Linked DNA regions of Homo sapiens: region 1 is linked to region 2. The links come from fine-mapping of genetic effects on gene expression. A gene starts in region 2. The other region holds a variant in brackets. All regions are shown on one strand. Distances are from middle to middle.

What was found. PIP is the estimated chance that this variant, and not a neighbour inherited with it, causes the effect.
Region 1: its variant is the best candidate, but not a certain one, in a credible set for the expression of ERI1 in lymphoblastoid cells (GENCORD, PIP 0.50).

Annotation. Positions count from the first base shown.
Region 1 is chr8:9,058,732-9,064,100 of GRCh38, forward strand. It overlaps a transcript of ERI1 not described here. Among named protein-coding and RNA genes, the nearest start is that of SNORD3I, 2.8 kb to the left of the region's middle. RefSeq lists an enhancer at 1,833-2,378. The variant C/T (reference allele first, on the strand shown) is at 3,068.
Region 2 is chr8:9,000,597-9,005,965 of GRCh38, forward strand. ERI1 (exoribonuclease 1) reads left to right here and starts at 2,301. Exons shown (of 7, transcript NM_153332.4): 1 at 2,301-2,575. The coding sequence starts at 2,468. LOC105379227 (a long non-coding RNA gene) reads right to left here and starts at 2,146. Exons shown (of 3, transcript XR_002956680.2): 1 at 2,065-2,146.

The DNA.
Region 1 (5,369 bases), 58 kb after region 2:
GTTAGAACAACTCAGCAAAATAAAATTCCATTTCATCGTTGGACAACATTGTTTCACACATCTGTGAAATAGGCCAAAAAAAATAAATAAATAAACAGCAACTTCATTGATAAATAAATAAATAAATAAATAAATAAATCTTTTATCTTTGGCCTTTTTAACCGTCTCATACAAACCAACTTTCATGCGCGTCCGTGTGAAGAGACCACCAAACAGGCTTTGTGTGAGCAATAAGGCTGTTTATTTCACCTGGGTACAGGTGGGCTGAGTCCAAAAAGAGTCAGCGAAGGGAGATAGGGGTGGGGCCGTTTTATAGGATTTGGGTAGGTAAAGGAAAAAGCGGGGTTGTTCTCTGGCGGGCAGGAGTGGGGGTCATAAGGTGCTCAGTAGGGGAGCTTCTGAGCCAGGATGAGCCAGGAGAAGGAATTTCACAAGACAATGTCATCAGTTTAGGCAGGAACAGGCCATTTTCACTTGTTTTGTGGTGGAATGTCATCAGTTAAGGCAGGAAGCGGCCATCTGGATGTGTACATGCAGGTCACAGGGGATATGATGGCTTAGCTTGGGCTCAGAGGCCTGACATTCCTGTCTTCTTATATTAATAAGAAAAATAAAATGAAATAGTGGTAAAGTGTTGGGGTGGCGAAAATTTTTGGGGGTGGTTTGGAGAGATAACGGGCGATGTTTCTCAGGGCTGCTTCGAGCAGGATTAGGGGCAGCGTGGGAATCTAGAATGGGAGAGAGAAGCTGAAGGAAGATTTTGTGGAAAGGGGTGATATTGTGGGGTTGTTAGAAGAAACATTTGTCTTATAGAATTATTGATGATGGCCTAGATACAATTTTGTATGAAGTGAAAAAAGAAGGGAATAAGACAAGGAGAAAAACAGGTATTAAAGGACTAAGAATTGGGAGGACCTAGGACATCTACCTAGAGAGTGCCTAAGGAGGTTCAGCATAGCCTTGCCAGCAAAGATTATTTATTTACTTTAAGAGTTAAGAGTGGCGGTTTGGGGATAGCACCAGGCGATATCAGCTGCGATGGCTTGGAGAAACAGTGTGAACCGGCAGTGTAAACAAGAGCAGGGCATGTATGAGTAGTTGAGAATGGTGAATAGGAGTATGACTAGACAGAAGATAGTAGGGATGACAAGTTTTCTGGGGCACAGTCCAAGTTGGTCTGGTGTCTGGAATGAGACTGGGGCTTAATAAAAAGGAGCGTCCATACAGGAGCTCAAATGGGCTGTACCCTGTAGCATTCCGAGGACAGGCCTGAATTCTGAGAAGGGAAAGTGGTAAAAGTATTGTCCAGTCCTTTTTAAGTTGGAGGCTGAGCTTGGTAAGATGTGTCTTTAAAAGACCATTAGTCCGTTCTACCTTTCCTGAATATTGAGGATGGTAAGGGGTACGAAGTTTCCACTGAATACCAAGAGCCTGAGAAACTGCTTGGGTGATTTGACTAATAAAGGCTGGTCTGTTATTGGACTGTATAGAGGTGGGAAGGCCAAACCGAGGAATTATGTCTGACAGAAGGGAAGAAATGACCGCGGTGGCCTTCTCAGACCCTGTGAGAAAGACCTCTACCCATCCAGTGAAAGTGTCTACCCAGACTAAGAGATATTTTAGTTTTCTGACTTGGGGCATGTTGAGTAAAGCCAATTTGCCAATCCTGGTGGGGGGCGGGGGCAAATCTCCAAGCTTGATGTGTAGCGAAGGGAGGGGGCCGGAACAATCCCTGAGGGGCAGTAGAATAGCAGATGGAACACTGAGAAGTGATCTCCTTGAGGATAGATTTCCATGATGGAAAGGAAATGAGAGGTTCTAAGAGACGGGCTAGCGGCTTGTAACCTACATGGAAGAGGTTATGAAATGACCACAGAATAGAATGGGCCTGTGAGGCTGGAAGGAGATATTTTCCTTGGTCTAAGAACCATTTGCCTTGTGTGGGAAGAGATTGATAGGTGGAAGTTTCAGCGGGGGAGTAGGTGGGAGTGAACGATGTGAAGGAGAGAAACTGGCCGTGAAGGACAGAAGTTGGAAAGCTAGCTGCTTGTCTAGCCACCTTATCAGCATAAGCATTGTCTAGAGCAACGGGATCTGATGCGTTTTGATGCCCCTTGCAGTGAATGACCCCAGCTTCTTTTGGAAGTAAAGCGGCCTTAAGCAGAGTTTTTATTAAAGAGGCATTAATGATGGAGGACGCTTGCGTAGTGAGGAAACCTCTTTCAGCCTGTATAACAGCATGGTGGTGCAGAATATGAAAGGCATATTTAGAGTCAGTATAAATATTGACGCGTAGTCCTTTTGCAAGAGCGAGGGCTTGAGTTAAGGCAACTAATTCGGTTTGTTCAGAGGTAATGGAGGGGAGCGGAGCGGTAGCCTCAGTGATAGATGTGGAAGATACTATAGCATAGCCTGCCTTTGCTGATGAGTGGCGATTAGGCCTGCTGGAACTGCCATCAATAAACTAAATGTGATCGGGGTGAGGAGCAGGAAGGAAGGAAATATGGGGAAATGGGGTGAATGTCAGGTGGATCAGCCAGATACAGTTATGAGGGTCAGATGTGGTATCCAGAATAATGTGGGAGGCCAGATTGAAGTCCGGGCCAGGAACAATGGTAATTGTGGGAGACTCAACAAAGAGTGAGTACAGCTGAAGGACCCGGGGAGCAGAAAGTATATGCATCAGGTGTGAGGCAGAAAATAGACTTGGGAAGTTATGAGAGGTGTAGAAAGTGAGTTGACCATAGTTTGTGATTTTAAAGGTCTCTGAAAGTATTAGGGCAGTGGCGGCCGCTGCACGCAGACATGAGGGCTAGGCTAAAACAGTAAGGTCAAGTTGTTTGGACAGAAAGGCTACACAGTGCTGTCCCAGCTCTTTTGTAAGAATTCTGACCGCACTAACCATGCCTGGGAAGGAAAGGAGTTGTTGTTTTGTAAGGGATTGAGGTTTGGGAGATTAGCCAGACATGATCAGCAGGGAGAGCATGTGTGTTTTTATGAGAATTATGCCGAGATAGGTAACAGATGAGGAAGACATTTGGGCTTGACTGAAGTAATGGGTGCTGTC[C/T]GTGAAGTTTTGCAGCAGTATAGCCCAGGTAATTTGCTGAGCCTGATGGGTGTCAGGGTCAGTCCAAGGGAAAGCGAAGAGAGGCTGGGATGAAGGGTGCAAAGGAATAGTAAAGAAAGCATGTTTGAGATCCAGAACAGAATAATGGATTGTGGAGGGAGGCATTGAGGATAGGAGAGTATATGGTTTTGGCACCACGGGGTGGATAGGCAAAACAATTTGGTTGATAAGGCACAGTCTTGAACTAACCTGTAAACTTTGTCTGGTTTTAGGACAGGTGAAATGGGGGAATTGTAAGGGGAGTTTATAGGCTTTAAAAGGCCATGTTGTAGCAGGTGAGGGAAAACAGGCTTTAATCTTTTTAAAGCGTGCTGTGGGACAGGATATTGGCATTGAGTGGGTAAGGGTGATTAAGTTTTAATGAGATTGTAAGGGGTGCATGATCAGTCGCCAAGGAGGGAGTAGAGGTATCTTATACTTGTGGGTTAAGGTGCGGGGATACGAGAGGAGAATGCGAAGGAGGCTTTGAACTGGGGAAAAGGGCAGCAATGAGGTGTGGCTGTAGTCCAGGAACAGTCAGGGAAGCAGATAATTTAGTTAAAATGTCTTGGCCTAATAAGGGAACCGGGCAGGTGGGGATAACTAAAAAAGAGTGCAAAAAAGAATGTTTTCTAAGTTGGCACCAGAGTTGGGGAGTTTTAAGAGGTTTAGAAGCCTGGCTGTCAATACTTACAACAGTTATGGAGGCAAGGGAAACAGGCCCTTGAAAAGAAGGTAATGTGGAGTGGGTAGCCTTCGTATTGATTAAGAAGGGGACGGACTTAACCTCCACTGTGAGAGTTAATCAGAGTATCTGTGATGGTCCTGTAGGCTTCCGAGGCAATCCGGCAGTGTCAGTCTACAGCCGCTAAGCTGAGAAGATCTGGGAAGGAGTCAGTCAGAGAGCCTTGGGCCAGAGTTCCAGGGGCTCTGGGAGTGGCTGCCAGGTGAGTTGAACAGTCTGATTTTCAGTGGGGTCTCGCTCAGATGGGACGTGGCTTAGGAGGAATCCCGGGCTGTGGGCATTCCTTGGCCCAGTGGCCAGATTTCTGGCACTTGTAGCAAGCTCCTGGGGGAGGAGGTTCTGGAGGAACCCCTGGCAGCTGCGGTTCAGGTGTTTGGAGTTCTTGTGTGCTGGAGATGTGGCTGGGGTTTGTCTCACAGTGGAGGCAAGGAATTGCAACTCAGAAATATGTTGCTACTTGGCTGCCTCTACTTTATTATTGTACACCTTGAAGGCCAGGTTAATTAAGTCCTGTTGTGGGGTTTGAGGGACGGAATTTAATTTTTGGAGCTTTATTTAATGTCGGCAGCAGATTGGGTAATAAAATAAATGTATATTGAGAATAAGACGGCCTTTTGACCTTTTAGGGTCTAGGGCTGTAAAGCGTCTCAGAGTTGCTGCTAAAGGGGCCATGAACTGGGCTGGGTTTTTTATATTTGATGAAAAAGAGCCTAAACACTAACTGATTTGGGAGAGGTCAGATAAAGAAAAAGCATTAACCTTGACTATGCCTTTAGCTCCAGCCACCTTTTTAAGAGGAAATTGCTGGGCAGGTGGGGGAGGGCTAGTCATGGAATGAAACTGTAAGCCAGACCGGGTGTGAGGAGGGGAGGTGATAAAAGGATTATAGGGTGGAGGAGCGGAGGCTGAGGAAGAATCGGGACCTAGCTCGGCCTGGCAAGGAGGGGAGAGGTCAGATGGGTCTGTAGAAAAGGAAGATTAGAAAGACTCAGCGATGCTTGGGGTTGGGACTGAGGGGACAGGCGGGAGGGAAAGAAGGAAGATTTGGGATGAGTTGCATGGGGAACAGAGACTAGGGAGGGTCCAATGTGTAAAAGAATGCCTGGACATCGGGCATCTCAGACCATTTGCCCATTTTACAACAAGAATTATTTAGATCTTGTAGGATGGAAAAATTGAAAGTGCCGTTTTCTGGCTATTTGGAACCACTGTAGAGTTTATACTGGGGTCAAGTGGCATTGCAGAAGAAAATAAGGCATTTAGGTTTTAGGTCAGGTGTAAGTTGAAGAGGTTTTAAGTTCTTGAGAACACAGGCTAAGGGAGAAGAAGGGGGAATGGAGGGTGGAAGGTTGCCCATAGTGAAGGAGGCAAGCCCAGAGAAAAGAGAGAGTAGAGACACGGAGGGAAGGGGTTCAGGGGTTCTTACCCTCCAGAAAAGCAGGAAAGGGGTTGGGGTGTGTAAATAAGGGGTTGGGGCACAGAGATAAGAGGTTGGAGTGTGGAAATAAGGGGTCAGGG
Region 2 (5,369 bases):
TTCATCTTTTTTCTGTGTGTGTGTGTGTCATTTTGTATTGTTTCTGTTGCTATATCTTTGAATTTATTTACCTTTTTCTCTGCATTGCTTAATGCGCTAGCAATCCCATCCAAAGAAATTTTTATTTCAAATATTTTTCACCTCCATCCAGAAATTTGATTTTTCAAAAATCTTTCCAGTTTCTCTCCTATCATGTCTTCCTTTAAATCTTTGAGCATATTCATAACAGGTGTTTAAAATCCTTGTCTGTTAATTCCATCATTTTTATCATTTTGGGGTTTGTTTCTATGAACTTCGTGAGATATTTTCTTACCACTTGGTCTCTCTCTCTCTCTTTTGAGACAGAGTCTTACCCTGTCACCCAGGCTGGGTTGTGGTGGTGCAATCATAGGTCACTGCAGCCTCAAACTCCTGGGCTCAAGCAATCCTCCCGCCTCAGCATCCCCAAGTGCTGCGTGTCTTTCAATTTTTGACTGGATGTCTCACATTTTGAATTTAATGTTGTTGAATCCTGGATTTTACTGTAGTCTTTCAGAGAGTTTTAGAATTTGTTCTTACAGGTAATTAGGTTACTTACAGAGCAGTTTGATCCTTTCAGGGCTTGTTTTAAGGCTTTTGAAGAATCTACAGTAGTTTATGTTCTGGGTCCTGCAGTCTACGGTTATTATATCTCACTAAGGCATGACACTTTCGTAACCACCCAAAAGGTTCATCTTGCCTACTGCCTAGACAGAGTCGATTTATCAAGACAGGGGAATTGCAATAAAGAGCAATTCATGCAGAGCTGGCAGTGCAGGAGACCTGAGTTTTATTAATCAAATCAGTCTCCCTGAGCATTTGGGGATCAGAGTTTTTAAGGATAATTGGGTGGGTGAGAAGCCAGTGAGATGGGAGTGGTGACTGGTTGGGTAGGAGATGAAATCATAGGGAGTCGATGCTGTCCTCTTGCACTGAGTCAGTTCCTCCCGTGGGGGACACAAAATCAGATGAGCTAGTTTATCCAAGATCAGGTGAGTCAGTTTATCAATCTGGGAGGTGCCAGCTGATCCATCAAGTGCAGGGCCTGCAAAATATCTCAAGCACTGATCTTAGATTTTACAATAGTGATATTATCCCCAGGAGCAATTTGGAGAGGGTTAGAATCTTGTAGCCTTCAGCTGCATGAGTCCTAAATCATAATTTCTAATCTTTCGGCTAATTTACTAGTCCTACAAAAGCAGTCTAGTCTCAAGAAGAGGGTTTATTTTGAGAAAGGGCTATCACCTTTGTTTTAAACTATAAGCTATACACTAAGTTCCTCCCAGTGTTAGTTTGGCCTACGCCTAGGAATGAATAAGGATAGCCTGGAGGTTAAAAGCAAGATGGAGTTGGTTAGGTCTGATCTCTTTCACTGTCTCAATGATAATTTTGCAATGGCAGTTTCACATCTGAGGTTTCTATTGCGTGTTCCATGGTATTCAATAATCTCTTCACTCTGGTTGCTGGGAGCTCAAATGATTCCCAGTTCTGTGTGACCTCTCACCATTGTTTGGTGTACTGCTCCCCAGTAATTGTTCTTTCCTGGCCTTGTGGAGTTTCACGTTTTTTATTCAGTTAAAGATTCAAGGTACTCCTAAGCAGATTTCTGAAGCTCTTTTTCCATGTAATTCCCTCCTCTCCAGAATTCTGCCCTACAAATTCCAACCGACTTGGCCTACCCCAATTTCGTCAACTCCAATCTCTGTCTTTTCAACCCAGGAGATCCTAGGTTTCCATATGATTTCCTTTCATCGCACCACAGACTGGAAATCGCCTCTGGGCAAAAGGGCAGGATGATATACGGCTCCTTTTATTTCTTTTCTCTCAGGTAAAACAGTCCACAGCTGTCCGTTGTCCAATGTCTGAATAGGTGTCTCCTATATTTTGTTCCGTTTTCTAATTGTTTATAGTGGGACACTAAGTCCCGACCCATTTTCTTTTCTTGCCCAGAGTGGAAGTTTTAGGAAACTCCTTATGGAAAATGTGAATTGTTTTATTATTTTTTATGGTCGAAAACATCTTTCTCTATGATATCTTCCCACTCACCCTACTTTTTTCCTTCTCAGGAAACACTGACGGGAACACACGTGCCGGTGCTACCCTCCAGTGACTGGACTAGATCCTTGCGCAACTTCAACCCGCGCTAGCTCCGCCTACGGCCGGCCACGCCCCGTCTTCTCACCGGCGCGCCTCCCTCTTGTTCGTCCTCCCTCCCCCTGTGGACTGCGGCGCTGGCGTTCCGCGCACGCCGGCTCACTGCGCCTGCCCGGCGTGTGGACGCCACACGCTCCCGGAAGTGGGAGGTGGCCGCTGGAGTTTGTGTGGCCGCCGCCGCGGGAACGCGAGCCCGGTAATTTTTCAACGGAGAAAGGCGAGGCTTTCGGGCTCTGCAGAGTGAGAGTTAGCAAGTGTCCGGCTCCAGCAACTCTCCTCTGGCGTGACAGCCGGCATGGAGGATCCACAGAGTAAAGAGCCTGCCGGCGAGGCCGTGGCTCTCGCGCTGCTGGAGTCGCCGCGGCCGGAGGGCGGGGAGGAGCCGCCGCGTCCCAGTCCCGAGGTGAGGAGTCGACCCGCGCCTGGCTGTTGGCGCCAGCTGCCCCGTCCCCAAAGCGCCCTCGGCACCCCTTTCTTCTCAGGTGTCCCGCAGAAGGTGCAGCTGTGCGCCCTTGGACCCCAGCCTCTTCCTCGGTGCCCAGCTCCCTGGCTTTATCCTCGGGTGGGTGTCTTGGAGCCCCCTCAGGGCCGAATCACTCTCTGGGAGGGAGGAAATCGTCAAGACCAGTTCTGTCTACAGTGGGTTAACAGGTTCTAAGAGGGAGTTTTGCTTTAAACTTAATTCTGTGTTCACGGTTGCTGTTGTCACTCCATGTAGCCGTTATGGGTAGTTTGCAAGGCTTTATGTTTTTAAAATCTCACCATATACGCTAGGTATGTCACTTCATGCCTGTTTTTAAAAAAAGAAAAAATTTAAAAAGCACTCACCAGCATCCCTGTCTCTGTACCTGTTAAGTGGAGCTTCGTCTTAGCTGCTTTTGCTCATTAACTGGTGTCTCATATAACCATAGTATAAGATTGAATGAATCATTTTGACATCTCATCGGTTGAACTTAGTTACAGTGGCAAAGTTGTAGAACAGTCTTAAAACTTATTTAACGAATGTTAATTGTTGACTAGCGCTGCGGATTGTAAGTGATTGAATACTAAAATTGATCTTTTCCTAATAATAAACATGTTGAACACTTCGTAAAGCTTCATAAAGTGCGTATTTGCAAGAGGCCTCCTAACTCTTGCTCCTTCCGTCCACAGTCAGTTTCCATCTGGCAGCTAGAATGAGCTTTTCAATAACATGAATTTGGCTTATTCCCCTCCTGAGTCACTTCCATTTGCTGCTCTGCGGGGTCGGGTGCCTGCCTCCCTTGGTAATTGCATCTCACACAGTTTTTTCCCTTTTGTTCCCAGTGCCCCTCGCTGCCTTGTGTTCTTTGACATTGGAAAGAAGGTCTCGTTAAGGATCTCTGTATGTTCCTTTTGCCCTGTGTGCACTTCCTTTGGATCCTTGCAATTATCTTTCTCCTTCTAAGGTTGTTATTTCAAAGAGTACTTGCACATCCCTTCTCTTGTAAAGAACCACTCTTCCACCTGCCTCCCTCTTCAGCCTGAGATACGTTGTCAATCTCATCCTGTAAGTGGGTTTTAAAATAAATTTCGAAGTTTATTTTTAGTAAAAGAAGTGTGTTTGAATATGCTTCTTTATATTTGAAAGTCTTGACACTTTTACAGCTACTTAAGGCCTAGGTCTCTGTTCCAAATTGGCTTTAGTGACGGTAGTAATTGTTAAAAACTTACTGTTGCATGCTCTTTATAGTGATACTTTTTTTTTTTTTTTTTTTTTTTTTTACAAAAAGCCGGTCGTAGTTGCCCTCTCCCGTAGTCCCAGCTACTGGGGAGGCTCAGTGGGGAGGATCACCTGAGCCCATGGGTGGAGGCTGCAGTGAGCTGTGATCGTGCCACTGCACTCCAACCTGGGTGACAGAGTGAGACCCTGTCTCAAAAAATAATAGTAATGATACTTTTTTTTTTTTTTTTTTGGAGACGGAGTTTCGTTCTTGTTGCCCAGTCTGGAGTGCAATGGCATGGTCTCAGCTTACTGCAACCTCCCGCCTCCCGGATTCAAGTGATTCTCGTGCCTCAGCCTCCCTAGTAGCTGGGATTACAGGAACCCACCACCACGCTTGGCTAGTTTTTGTATTTTTAGTAGAGATGGGGTTTCACCATGTTGGCCATGCTGGTCTGGAACTCCTGACCTCAGGTGATCCGCCCACCTCGGCCTCCCAAAGTGCTGGGATTACAGGCAATGAGCCACTGCGCCTGGCCATGATACAGTGTTTTTCAATCTGGGCCAAAGTTTTTTGTTGAATTCAGGTGGTAAATTTCCATTATCTCTAATGCTAGTTGTCTTTGTAAACTAGTAGAAGCTATTGCATATTTATATTTTTAATAAGTAGGTTCAGATTTCATCAGAACTCTCCTTTTGGAAGAACGTCAATCAAGAAAAATTCTAAGTTTTTTTTCAGTGTGCAGATGCAGAGGTTTTCCTTTTCTTTTTTTAAAAGGTAGTACCTAGATTTTTGGCAGCAGAATAATAGCATTTCCAGAACATGTTTTCAAAATGTTCTCTATACAGAAAAAGTTTTATTTGACAAGCAGTTACTTTGTAGCTTACTGTTAAAATGTGTTTTCTTTTTTCTTGCAACAACAGATTGTGTTCCTTTAAAAAAATGCTAAAAATCAAGCTCCGGTACCCTTCCCAATAAGAAGAGGACAGCAATTATAGAATACCTGTCTTTTTGTAAAAGAAAATTTGTAACTCATCTTTAAGTTCAACAACAGTTTTTTTATGTTTTTTTTTTTTTTTTTTGAGAGGGAGTCTCTCTCTGTTGCCCAGGCTGGAGTGCAGCGGCTCAGTCTCGGCTCGCTGCAAGCTCCGCCTCACGGGTTCACGCCATTCTCCTGCCTCAGCCTCCTGAGTAGCTGGGACTACAGGCGCCCGCCCGGCTAATTTTTTGTATTTTTAGTAGAGACGGGGTTTCACCGTGGTCTCTATCTCCTGACCTCGTTATCCGCCCGCCTCGGCCTCCCAAAGTGCTGGGATTACAGGCGTGAGCCAACGCGCCCGGCCTCAACGACAGTTTTAAAGTAGTTTGCCACAAGATAGTAAACCTCTGTTTGGTATAGAAGATTTTCATGGCCACATCCCATAATGTAAAAGCTTCTCTTATTTGAGATAATATAAACCATACATCCACTTAATTGAATACGTGAATATTGCAAAATGTTACAGTTCTGTGATG